Linked DNA regions of Homo sapiens: region 2 is linked to region 1. The links come from fine-mapping of genetic effects on gene expression. A gene starts in region 1. The other region holds a variant in brackets. All regions are shown on one strand. Distances are between the middles of the regions. Region 1 holds the start of AMOTL1 (angiomotin like 1). Region 2 overlaps PIWIL4-AS1 (PIWIL4 antisense RNA 1).

Region 1 (5,379 bases):
TCATTTCAATTAGTTCAGCCATCTTTTCCCTAGGCCCTGGGTCCACACTTTTCCTTAGGGGTAGACATCAGAAAAGCTGAGCTCTACCCACAACAGCCTCTAGACTAACTGGCCCAGGGCAGACACTCTCAAGTCTGATCAGCGGAGTGCTTTCCCATAAAATCACTCACATTTCTGCATTCATGTGTTTTTCTTAACGACAGCACTTTAAAATCTCATTTAAACTGAAAATCCTCCATTAGCCTCCGTGAAAAGATGTATTTTTAAATGCTTTGATCTCCACATGCCCTTTGGAAAATTAGTATGCTACATCCTCCATCATCTGCAAAGAACCTGAAAGACCAAGACTTCTGTGCATTTTAAAAAGAAGGGGGAGGGAAAGGGGCGTTACAGGTACAGCACCTTCTCTCCTATCCACCTGCAGGTTTACAAAGGTTTCCTTATTTATCTTGAAAAATGCATCACAGAAAAACAAAAGTGCACTCCAAGAACTAAACATCCTCATCCCTCCCCCCAACCCCCACCACCATCATAAGGAAAAGTAGAGCCTGTATAAAGCCTTCTACCTATGTCCTACCCTTTTCATTCTGGTCGAATCGGTGTTTTCCTTCATTCTAGTCAAATCAGTGCTTTTCCACCCTTTACTAACAGTTCAAAGTATATTAAACTACTGTTCCCACATTATTCTCATAAAGAGCCTTCAAAGTAGATACACACTATAAGGCTCAGAGCACCTTACTAGGAAGTAAATGTCAGTTGCTCTAGATTCTTTAAGACCTTGCAATCTAGAGAGCTCCTTAATCGTTAACCTGGGTCTGACTTCCACAGCTGCCCGGGCCCAGGAGTGGTATGCAGCCAGGGGAAATCTTAGCCAGTTTGGCAGTGACCCATAGGCCAGTTTTGGAAGCAGGGAGCCATGATTGTTTAATATTTCAAGCCTTGACTTTTTGCTTCCCGAAAAGGAAGGAAATTTTCTGGAACTGTAGCTATTAATAGCCCTCTATTCTGGTTTAATTCGTTTATGGTGAGCAGGTTAGCACGTTACTGCTTTGGTTAGCCGAAAGCATCTTCGAGGTATCACAACTGGCTCTCGAGACCACGTACCCCACCACCACCAAGGCCTTCTATAAGCAGTACAAAAACTCAGTTCTCATAACATGCCTCAGGAGAAGAAAATGGGAAACCAAGGCCTCACAGAGAAAGGGAGCTGAGGGACCATGGGGACAAAATGTTGGGTCCAAACCGCATCGTCTCAGGAGGCCGCACGCTCAGGGCCCACCTCTGAAACCCCAGTCCAGGTGATCCACACGCTAGCCCGGCCAAAAGGTATTTGCCACGCGGAGACAGGAAACCAACACCGAAGCCAAAAAGGCAAAAATCTTCGAACAAAAATGGAAAAGGAAAGTCTTCCTAGTCATCAGTAAAGATAGGAAGAGTAGGGTGGGCGAGGCGCGGGAGCTTTGCGCAGATACCCGGGATTCTCGGCCTGGGGCTCTGAGGGGGGAAACTTGGACACGTCGCCGCGAGCGCAGTCCAGGTAGCGGAGGCCCTAGAGGTGCGCGCCAGGGCTCGTCTGCTCTGCCGCCGCGTCCTCCAGCCCGGCCGCCTATGGGGCACGCTCGGTCCCTGTCCCGGCACTAGGCCACCGTTCCGCTCGGCTGTCATCGGCCAACGTACCACTCTCCCTCCTGCCACAAATGTCACATTCCAAGAAAAAACAGTTCCATTTGGAAAGTTTAAATTTTCTCCCCGCGAAAGCAGATTATTGTAAAGGCAGCCCTAACAGGCAAGCGGGAGCTGGATGTAACTCTCCAGTTTGTCAAAGAAACTTGTCTGGGGAGAGAACAAAGAAGGAGCAGCAGCTAACGCGATCCGAGCGTCTGGGGCTGGGGTGCGACCCTTTCGTCGCCCCCACCCGCCAGAGCCGGGTCTGGCCGGCGGGCAGAAAGGGTCCAGTCCACAGCGCCAGAGCCCGTCGGGCGGGCCGGTGCGCGCGCCTTTGTCTCGCGCCGGGGAAAGCTGCACCGGACACCCCCTTCCGTCCCCTCCCTCGCCGCGAGACCCGCGCGCGGGCGCGGGCGCGCCTCGGAGTGTCTGGCCATATGGCTGCGCCCCTCAGGAAAGGCCAGCCCCGCGTCGGGCGCGCAGCACCCCGGGGCCCAAACCCCGGGGCCACAACTTCAGTCAACGTGGGTCGCGGGGCGGCAAGACGCTGAGGCCCGGCCCGCAGGCAACTGGACCTGGAGCGGGGCAAGGGAACCCGCTTAAAAACAACAATCTGGGATCTCAGCCCCGGGCCCCCAGAAGCTGCCCCCTTCCGTGAGCAGCAGGGGCCCGGGGAGCCCGGGGCGACTGGGTTCTTCGCGTGGGAGACTCGGAGACGCCCTCCCGGCACCTCGAGTGGGGGCTGGTTACCTTTCACCGCAGGCTCACAAGTTCCCCGGCGCAACTTTGCCCTCCACATGAGGCGATCATGGCTAGTTCAGTCCCTCGGCTGGGGAAGACGGCTGCCGGGCAGCGCGGGGAAGTGGCGCCGGACAATCAACCCCATTCACACAGGGCTTCACCTCCAGCCCCAAACCCGACAACCGCTGCTGGGTCCTAGAGCTTCTCGCGCGCTCCCGCCGCCGTCCGCGCTCCCCGCTCCCCGCGCGCGGGCCGGGGAGGGTCGCCCGGGCTCGTCACTAGAACCCTACACTCCACCCCCGCCGTGGCGCCCGGCCGCTGGGCCCTAGAGCCCGTCTGCAGACACCCGCCGCCCCTCCCCGGGCCGCGAGACTGCCAGGCTGAAATTGCCCAGAGCTCAAGCTGACGTGTCTCCCTGAGACTTAGGAGGGCGACAGCATCCCTTCCTTTGTCCCCTGCCGGGTTTTGATTAATTTCAGACTCACCAGTTCTCCCTCCACTTTGTCTTCCTTCCCCACCAGCCCAATGCCGGCCAAAATTCTGTTTCCGGATCTGCCCAAAAGTCTAGATTTGCTTAGGTTGGTTTTTTTTCTTCTTAAGTGGAATTTCCAGGTAGAAAGTGGCCACACTTTTCTCAGCATTCCCCAGGCCCCAGTGCTTCCATCACGCACTTGAGATTGGGCGATAAGCTGCTACTATGTGCTCCGTTGACAAACAGAAGGGCCAAAACAGACCTGACAGCCTCGGATATTAAATGTGTTCGCAGAACCGTACATCCTCTGGCCATAAATCCCCAGGCTGTTATCTGCCTGAGTAGAGGTAAAGAAAGTAAGCGACTCTGGGAAAATGTTGCCCCACCTCTTAAAATCAGGCTGTGCTGAGAACTACTCATCCACCTCATTATATTGGTTTATACTGGCGGCTCTCTGGAGCCCTAATCTGGGGTGCCCGAGCCTGCCCCATAGCACTTCTGCCTGGCTTTTTCCGGGCAGCTCTACTGCTTGGAGAAGAGAAAGCTAGGTAACTGTACAGTTGCTGCCCAGGATGTTAGTGGGAGAGTTAGCGCACACCAAGCCTCTCTTATCTGGTGCTCCCTGCCTCTGTTTACCTGCTATCTAGGTCCGGCCTTCAGGGACTCCTCCCTGGATTGTGGCAGTTCCCTAACTAGACTGCCAGCAGTTTTACCTCTCATCAGTTCTGGTGGGTTGCATGTCCTGATTCTGATTCCCCTGATGGGCCCTCCTACTGAGTAAACTCTGCTCTCAAGATAAAGCCCAAATGTAATCATTTAACAATTATTTATGAAATGCCTACTCCATTTAAAGTCATCTACCCTGGTACACACAAAAGAAACTTAGCACACAAAAGAAACTTAGAGCAGCTGACCAGCCCTTCAAGGATCTGTTATCTGTCTAAGAAGACAAGATGTGTGAACAGAAAACAGGCAAGCAACAAAGCAGGAGATCCAAGTACTGCAGATGCCTGGGAAGGGCGGAGAGAGGCACTGACTACACAGAAGGAAAAGCCTGGGAGGGTGGTGGAGTTCAGACACAGCAGAAAGAGGAAAAGGCAGCACTGGGCAAGCAGAGGCAAAAGCCAAGAGGGAGATGACAAGGTCTGGGTGCTTGGGAAGAAGGCATAGAGGAAAGCGTTTTTACCAGAAACGAGGAGAAAACAAGGGAAGGCAGAATAACAACGTCACAAAAATGTAGGCCTGGAAAGAATCTAAGAAAGTGTCAACTAAACCTTTCACTTGCCGGATGAAGAAGCTCAGGCATAGCTGTTGAATGACTTGTCCAATGTTACAGAACAAGTTTAGTAGCAAAGCCAGGTATAGAAACAACCTCTGCCTCAATGTGCCTTGTATTACACATTGTGAACCCTGAATCGCAAATTAGGAGCTGAAGTGGTTATCTTATGGACAGTGAAGGGACCACTGATTCACCTAACATTTGCGCGAATTTAATACAAATTGGGGAAGAAGTGATGGATAGAAAAAGAAGAAAGGAAACTAATCTTTACTAATTGCCCACTCCTAGATACCATCCTATAGTCTAGGAAGCAGCAAAATTTCCAAGTTACAACCATCAAGTTTAGAACAAAACAGGCATGAGCTGAGTTGCAGCTCCACCATTCAGTATCTGTGTGACGCTGAGCAAGTTGCCTAACTTCTCTAAACCTCAGTATCCTTTTTGGCAAGATGAAGAAAATAGCATCTCACAGAGTGGTTGTGAAGACTGAATAAAATAACAAATGTAAAATACTCAGCACAATGCATGTAGTATTCAATATACATTTGCTATTATTATTTCAAGAGACTATCTAGGATAGTTGCAGGAAGCAATGATAGGTGAGGTTGACAGAGGTGATAAAAAGGAAATGAGAGATACCATATCTTTGGAGATACCAGATGTCATAAAGAAAGGTATCAAATCTTTGAAGCAAGATTTTATTCTTCTCATTGACTCGTTGTTTATCCTGGGGAAAAGGACAAAGTAATCAAGTTAACCTAGGCTTTGAGCCCAGTCATAGGAAGAATAGATCTTGCAGTCTTAGAAGAATGGATCATTAGACCAATGACAGATGAAGCACAGTTGAGAAGAGGAAACGGTTTGAGAAAGATGCTGAGTGACTTACTATCCTCTGGGCAAGAGGAAACAAGGAACAAGGGACTGGGTGAGAAGTGGAGGACAGAGGTGTAGAGAAAAGGAGAGATGAAGCTTTGAAGATCAGTTCATTAACAGAATGTCCACAACTGGAAAACAGGGAAAGAAGGAGGGAGAAGAGGAAGAATCTGGAGAAGTAGAAGAGCTGGGAAAAGGTAAAGGCATGGAAGCCAGAGGAAGTTTTAAGAAGTGGGTCCTTCTATCAAATGCTACAGATTCTTAGACCTGCAATGAAGTGCTAGGCACAGCTTGTGGGTTCAAGGATCTTCTGATTCAATCAGGTGGACCTAGCCTAGACTCCTCAAAT
Region 2 (5,379 bases), 39 kb after region 1:
CAATTTTTTCATTCATGAACTCAGAATAAAGCTGTTGTGAGAATTAATTGAGATAGTCTATATCTATACAAAAAAGGCTTAGTGTAACATCTGGCAATATTATATATCTAATAAATGGTTAAAATATTTTTCTATAATTCGTCCATTTCTGACTTAGCTCTGGCACATTACACTTCCTCTCCGAGTGCCAGTATCCTCATCCTACTTCAACACCTCACGAGGTTCTCATTTTGGCACCTGACTCTGTCCTCTGAGGACCTGCACCTTTCTTGGATCTCATCCCAGGCCTCTGAGAACCACCTTAGTATCAGCTGCCCACAAGGATTTACAGATTTCAGCCACACTGATTCCTTGTGTCTGTGCTTCACCCACTGACAGTGGGTGACTGTGCTTCACCCACTTCACCACAACACTGCCCTGCTTTGTCTTGGATGCCTTCATATTTGCAGGATATAGACTGATTATCTGAACTGGAACCAGATATTATGGTATCTGTTGCCTACCAGAACTAAGCTTTTCCCTCAGCCCCAGAAGCTCGTCACTTACCCAAAAGCAGTACCTTCTCTTTAGGCAAACCTAGACACAGGTCTGGCTTCCCTTCCTATGTTCCAGCCTTGCCCCAAAGATTGCAGATAGATGACATGGTAAACTCACAGAAGGATAAGACAGAGCTTGGAGATGGTCACAGTATGGAGTTTTTAGCCACCCCTTTGTTACAGTGATCCCTAAGGCTTCTTTCAGTTCTAAAATTCTCTGGTGGATGATTCTATTGCCTAGGTTACAAAAGCACCAAGCATCAGTGGGAAAACCACACTTTCTTTCTCTCCTCTGCCTTTAGGCTTTGGTAACAAGCCTAGGGTCATTGAATCAAATGCTATAGGTGTGCTGAAAGCAAGGTGAAGTGATGTGGTGGTGCCAGAAGCAGTTGTATAATCAGATAGGTTCCCACAGCCAAAAAAGGTTTTCAATGAAGGCAGAGATATTCAGAGGATGTGGTCCCAACTGTCATTCATTCATTCATTCATTCATCCAGCCACACAGCCAGCCAGCCATCAAATATACACCATGAATTTGCCATGCAACAGTGAAAGGGGTACAAAGATGAATAAAACAAGGCATCTGTCTCAAGAAGCACACAGGCTGTTCAGGATTCAGGCAAGCACAATACAGTGTGATGATACGTGCTGTGACATGGGAATCTGCAGAGGCTATGGCAGCACTGAGGAGGGAGGAGAGACTCTCCTTCAGACCAGGATGGGGGTTGGTAGGAGGTGGTGGCAGGAAGAGATCCCAGAACAGATGACTTAAGCAGAAGCTTCAAAGATGAGTAGGAACTGGCCAAGTGGAAGAGAGATGATAATAGCAGCCTTTGCAAAGGTTCACAGGCATGTGAGGGCAGGATGTATTCAGGGATCCAGGAAGAGGCTGATACAGTGAGAAGGAGGGGGTTGCTATTAGTGATGGGCAGCAGGAGATGAATCTAGAGGGGCAGGCAGAGGTCAGATCTGGAAGGGCTGTGTGTTGAACTAGGGAGGTTTAGTTTTTTTCCATGGGGTGTGAAGAGATGCTGGCTTAAGAACTTCTAAAAAGAGGCTGGAATGACAGTATGACAGTGCACAGGAACAAATGACAGTTGGTTTTTGGGTGGAATGCATCCAAATTTCCTCTCTCAAAGCTTCCTGTCTTCCCTTTGGCGACTATCTCATTGTGTGAAGCAGTCTTGGTTGGAAGACATACCCTGGTGTAGTGCAGAAGGTCTGCAAATGTTTGTTGCCATATAAGTTACCCTGTTTTAGAGGTGGGCACATCAGAGAGTATAGTCTGTTGTTCTCTATGTCTATCTTGCTCTCGTTCTTGTATTACTAGTGCTTGGCATAAAATAGATACTCAATAATATTTGTTGAATAAATGAATAAACAACAAACAAATGGGAGACATATCCTTGTGAAAACATCTGTGAGTGCATTAACCTCAACAACCTTTCATCGTCCATCTATAGAATGGCTCCTACCATCAAAGTAGGTCTCTATCAGATTTGAGGGATGGAGGAGGGAGCGGACTCTTAGACCTGACAGAGGACCACAGCTCTGTGTCAGGGTATGGTTCTTATATTTGTATGCTCTGCTCCAGGAAAGTAACAATATCTCCATCATTTAATGCTGAGTCACATTAATTGGATAATCATAAAGAAGGGAAAGAGCTGGCCTACTCTGTTTATATTGGTTGCTTTATCCTCAACTTGAATGTTTACAGGCTGCTGAGAGGAGAAATGAGCAAAACAGGAACAGAGTGCCTAACACATGTTAGGTGCTCAAAGATGTCTGACCAGCTTCCCACCTGGCCAGGGCAAGAGCTCATTACATGACAGCTGATGGTCCTCATCATAACACTGCAAAGTGGGCATTCTTACTCTCATGTTAGAGCCCAGGGAATGACAGATTTTCTCAAGGCCATAAAACTTGTAAATAGTGAATTCGGTATCTGAACCCAGGTCTGTCTGACTTCAAAGTCCATTCCCTCTCCTCTCCACTCAGCTGCTTTTGAAAAGACAAACAGC[G/A]TGGGCACGTACTGAGTACAGTGGATTGACATAATGAGGTGCAGAAGCTGAAGAGTACCATGCTATCAGGGACATCAAAAACGGCCTTACCCGCTCTGGTGCTGGCAAAATGATGAATTCCAGCATGGGATAACCAGGCTCCTTCCTCCAAAGTCCATTTTTCACTGAGGTCCATGCTTCTAGCCCCTTGTATGTATAGCTTTCAGATCAAATGGAAGCAATCTCCTGAAATAAATAATGAATATAAAAAAGGGATTTGAATTACCACTGATGTTCTCTTTGTGAAGAGAAGCTTTCTTGAAGGAAAGTGGTCAGTTTCTAGCTCATTTCATTCCTTTGGCACACAAAGCTCGTTGTCTAGATTTGGGTATGGCCTGAGTGTGAAGTTGCTCAAGCCCACAAACCAGGTTTTCCTCACCATTCAGTTAACAAATATTTGTGGAATGACTATTGTATGCCAGGCTTTGAGCAAGAAATTTACTATTTAGTTGTGCATAGTTTATAGACTCCTAGAATTTCAGGGCAGGATATAGTGGGATCTCAATTTTATTTAAAAGATACACACTCTTCTATTTGCCTAAAAAATGACTAAAAAAACTTGAACTAATAAGTTAGAAGCAGTTTTCATTGTATTAGAATTATGACTACTTTTTATCTTCCTTGTAATTTTCTGCATTTTCAACAATGAACATGTATTGCTTTTGTAATCTCAAAAAGGTATGCAATAAATATTATTTTAAAAGAACACTTCAGAGCCAAGAGGGACCATGGAGACCAATTTTCCTTTTCCTTTTGAAAACTATAATAGAAAGGCACAGTTACAAGGGCTCTTGGCTTTCGTAAAAAGATCATTCCCACTCCATTGGCCACCACTGAGAAGGCCAGCCTGAAGAATCTCTCTATATGCAAACTGTACCTGGGCTGATTACAACTCATGGCCAAACTCTTGCCCATATTACAAAGAGATCTTGATAACGCTCTGCATGTAGCAGGTTCTCAAATGAAAGTGATTGAGTAATTGAACATGACTGATTCATCACATCTGTGAATGCAGCAAGTGGGACATCCACACAGTAGAAGTCCTGTCAGCCTAATTAGGATAGGCACCAATCATCATTTGCTGTAGTCAGCCCAGCTGGCTTAATTTGGTCTCTAGAATGCTGTTCAGAGTTGCCCTGCGGGTTCCTGCATTGCCTGCCAGACTGCAGACATGGTAGATTGACTTGTTGCTTTTTGGCTATCTGCCTGGAAAAATATGATACTTATGGGAGATGCACCAAACAAATAACAATATCTAATAAAATACTAGGAAGTACCAAAGAATGTAGTGCACTTTATTGGGTACTGCTTCTCTAGCAATTTGTGTTGAATCCAATTACCCAAAAATTTTGGAAGGGAGTTCTAGACCAGAGTGAATATGGCACAGTGTAATAGTGAGAACGTTAGACTTATCAATAAATCCAGATTTTAGCCCTGACTCTGCACTAACTGGATGACTTTGGGCAAACCAGTTACTTTCTCTGGGCTTAATTTCCTCTTGCAAAGACCTCTTCAGGCCTCCCAGACTTGCAGCCTATAATAATATGCTTTTGTATACAAAGGCTACCTATCCACCCATGTCAGTGGATTGAGGAAGCTGCATTATTTATCCGTTAGCCAACTGAGACATCAGCACACAAGAGGTGGCTGATTGAGGCTAGAAGTAGTCTGCCATTGAACCAGACACGTTCTCTGTGCAAAACTAAAAACATGTCTGGAGTAGAAATCCAATATTGGGCCATAATCACACTGGTATCATCATTTAATCAACTGAAGTAAATATCCAACATTTTATATCTTTGCTGATTATTAAATAGTATTAACAATAATACTACATCCTTAAAAAGCAACACTTATTTACAACAGGTAATTCAAAATCACTTCATTAATCTTTGCAGTATCTTTGGGAAGTGAAGTAGAGACTCCAAGAGCTTTGTTTGACAAAAATAGGCTTTAGTGATTAACCAAAGAGTGGTTTTCAAAGAAGATTCCCATCTCTCTTGGCCCAGTGGCCTAGGTACCCTCTGGCTTCCAGGAAACAGATTTGCAAGATGATATGGATGTGTGAGGTTAGGCTCTCACATCCATGATTTTATTTTATTAATCTGAACTACATAGGCCCATGGTGAGTGTTTTATTAACTTCAACCTGCAACCCCTGCTGGTTTCTCTGATGCTTGAATTTCACTTCAGCTTGGGAAAACCAAGCACTAAATGTAAAATGAAATGGCATCAAACACATGTATTTTGAGGAAGGTTTTGATCCATCACACCTGTTACTGAAATTCCAACACCTCCCTTTAGCCACAGGAAGCCCCAGAGTTGCTCAGGAGATTCTGGAGCCTAGAAAAGAGTTTTCAGGCCTCAGGCCATATAAAATAACTTACTAAAGAATTTCTATTGGGTATTTAACCTCCATCCAAGTCTAAACCCTGCCATAGACAAAGTCCATGAAGAAGAAACTAAAATGTAATGCAACCTTGAGAATTTAATGAAAAACATAATGCAACCATGGAAACAGGAAGTGAAGAAATACTTTCTAATGACAGCACAAATACTAATATGCCTGATAAGTTGGGGTGGGTGAATGGGAAAGACCATCAAAAACTTACAGATGTAATTCTGGCTTTGAGAATCACTTTTTTAGAACTAAGCTACCTGCATAGATGGACATTGGGGTCTATGGAATACTGGAATACTATGAATACATAATTGGCACTTCATAAATATTGGTTGATTGAATGGATGAATAAATGCCCAGTGTGGGTGAAGACTCTACCTAGG

What was found. PIP is the estimated chance that this variant, and not a neighbour inherited with it, causes the effect. A credible set is the group of variants that fine-mapping cannot tell apart.
Region 2: its variant is the best candidate, but not a certain one, in a credible set for the expression of AMOTL1 in blood mononuclear cells (TOPMed, PIP 0.64).

The regions. Positions count from the first base shown.
Region 1 is chr11:94,765,597-94,770,975 of GRCh38, reverse strand. It overlaps AMOTL1 (angiomotin like 1), which reads right to left and starts at 2,620. Exons shown (of 13, transcript NM_130847.3): 1 at 2,416-2,620. The coding sequence starts at 2,464.
Region 2 is chr11:94,726,324-94,731,702 of GRCh38, reverse strand. All of the region lies in intron 1 of PIWIL4-AS1 (PIWIL4 antisense RNA 1), which reads left to right. It also overlaps a transcript of AMOTL1 not described here. Among named protein-coding and RNA genes, the nearest start is that of PIWIL4-AS1, 11 kb to the left of the region's middle. The variant G/A (reference allele first, on the strand shown) is at 2,558.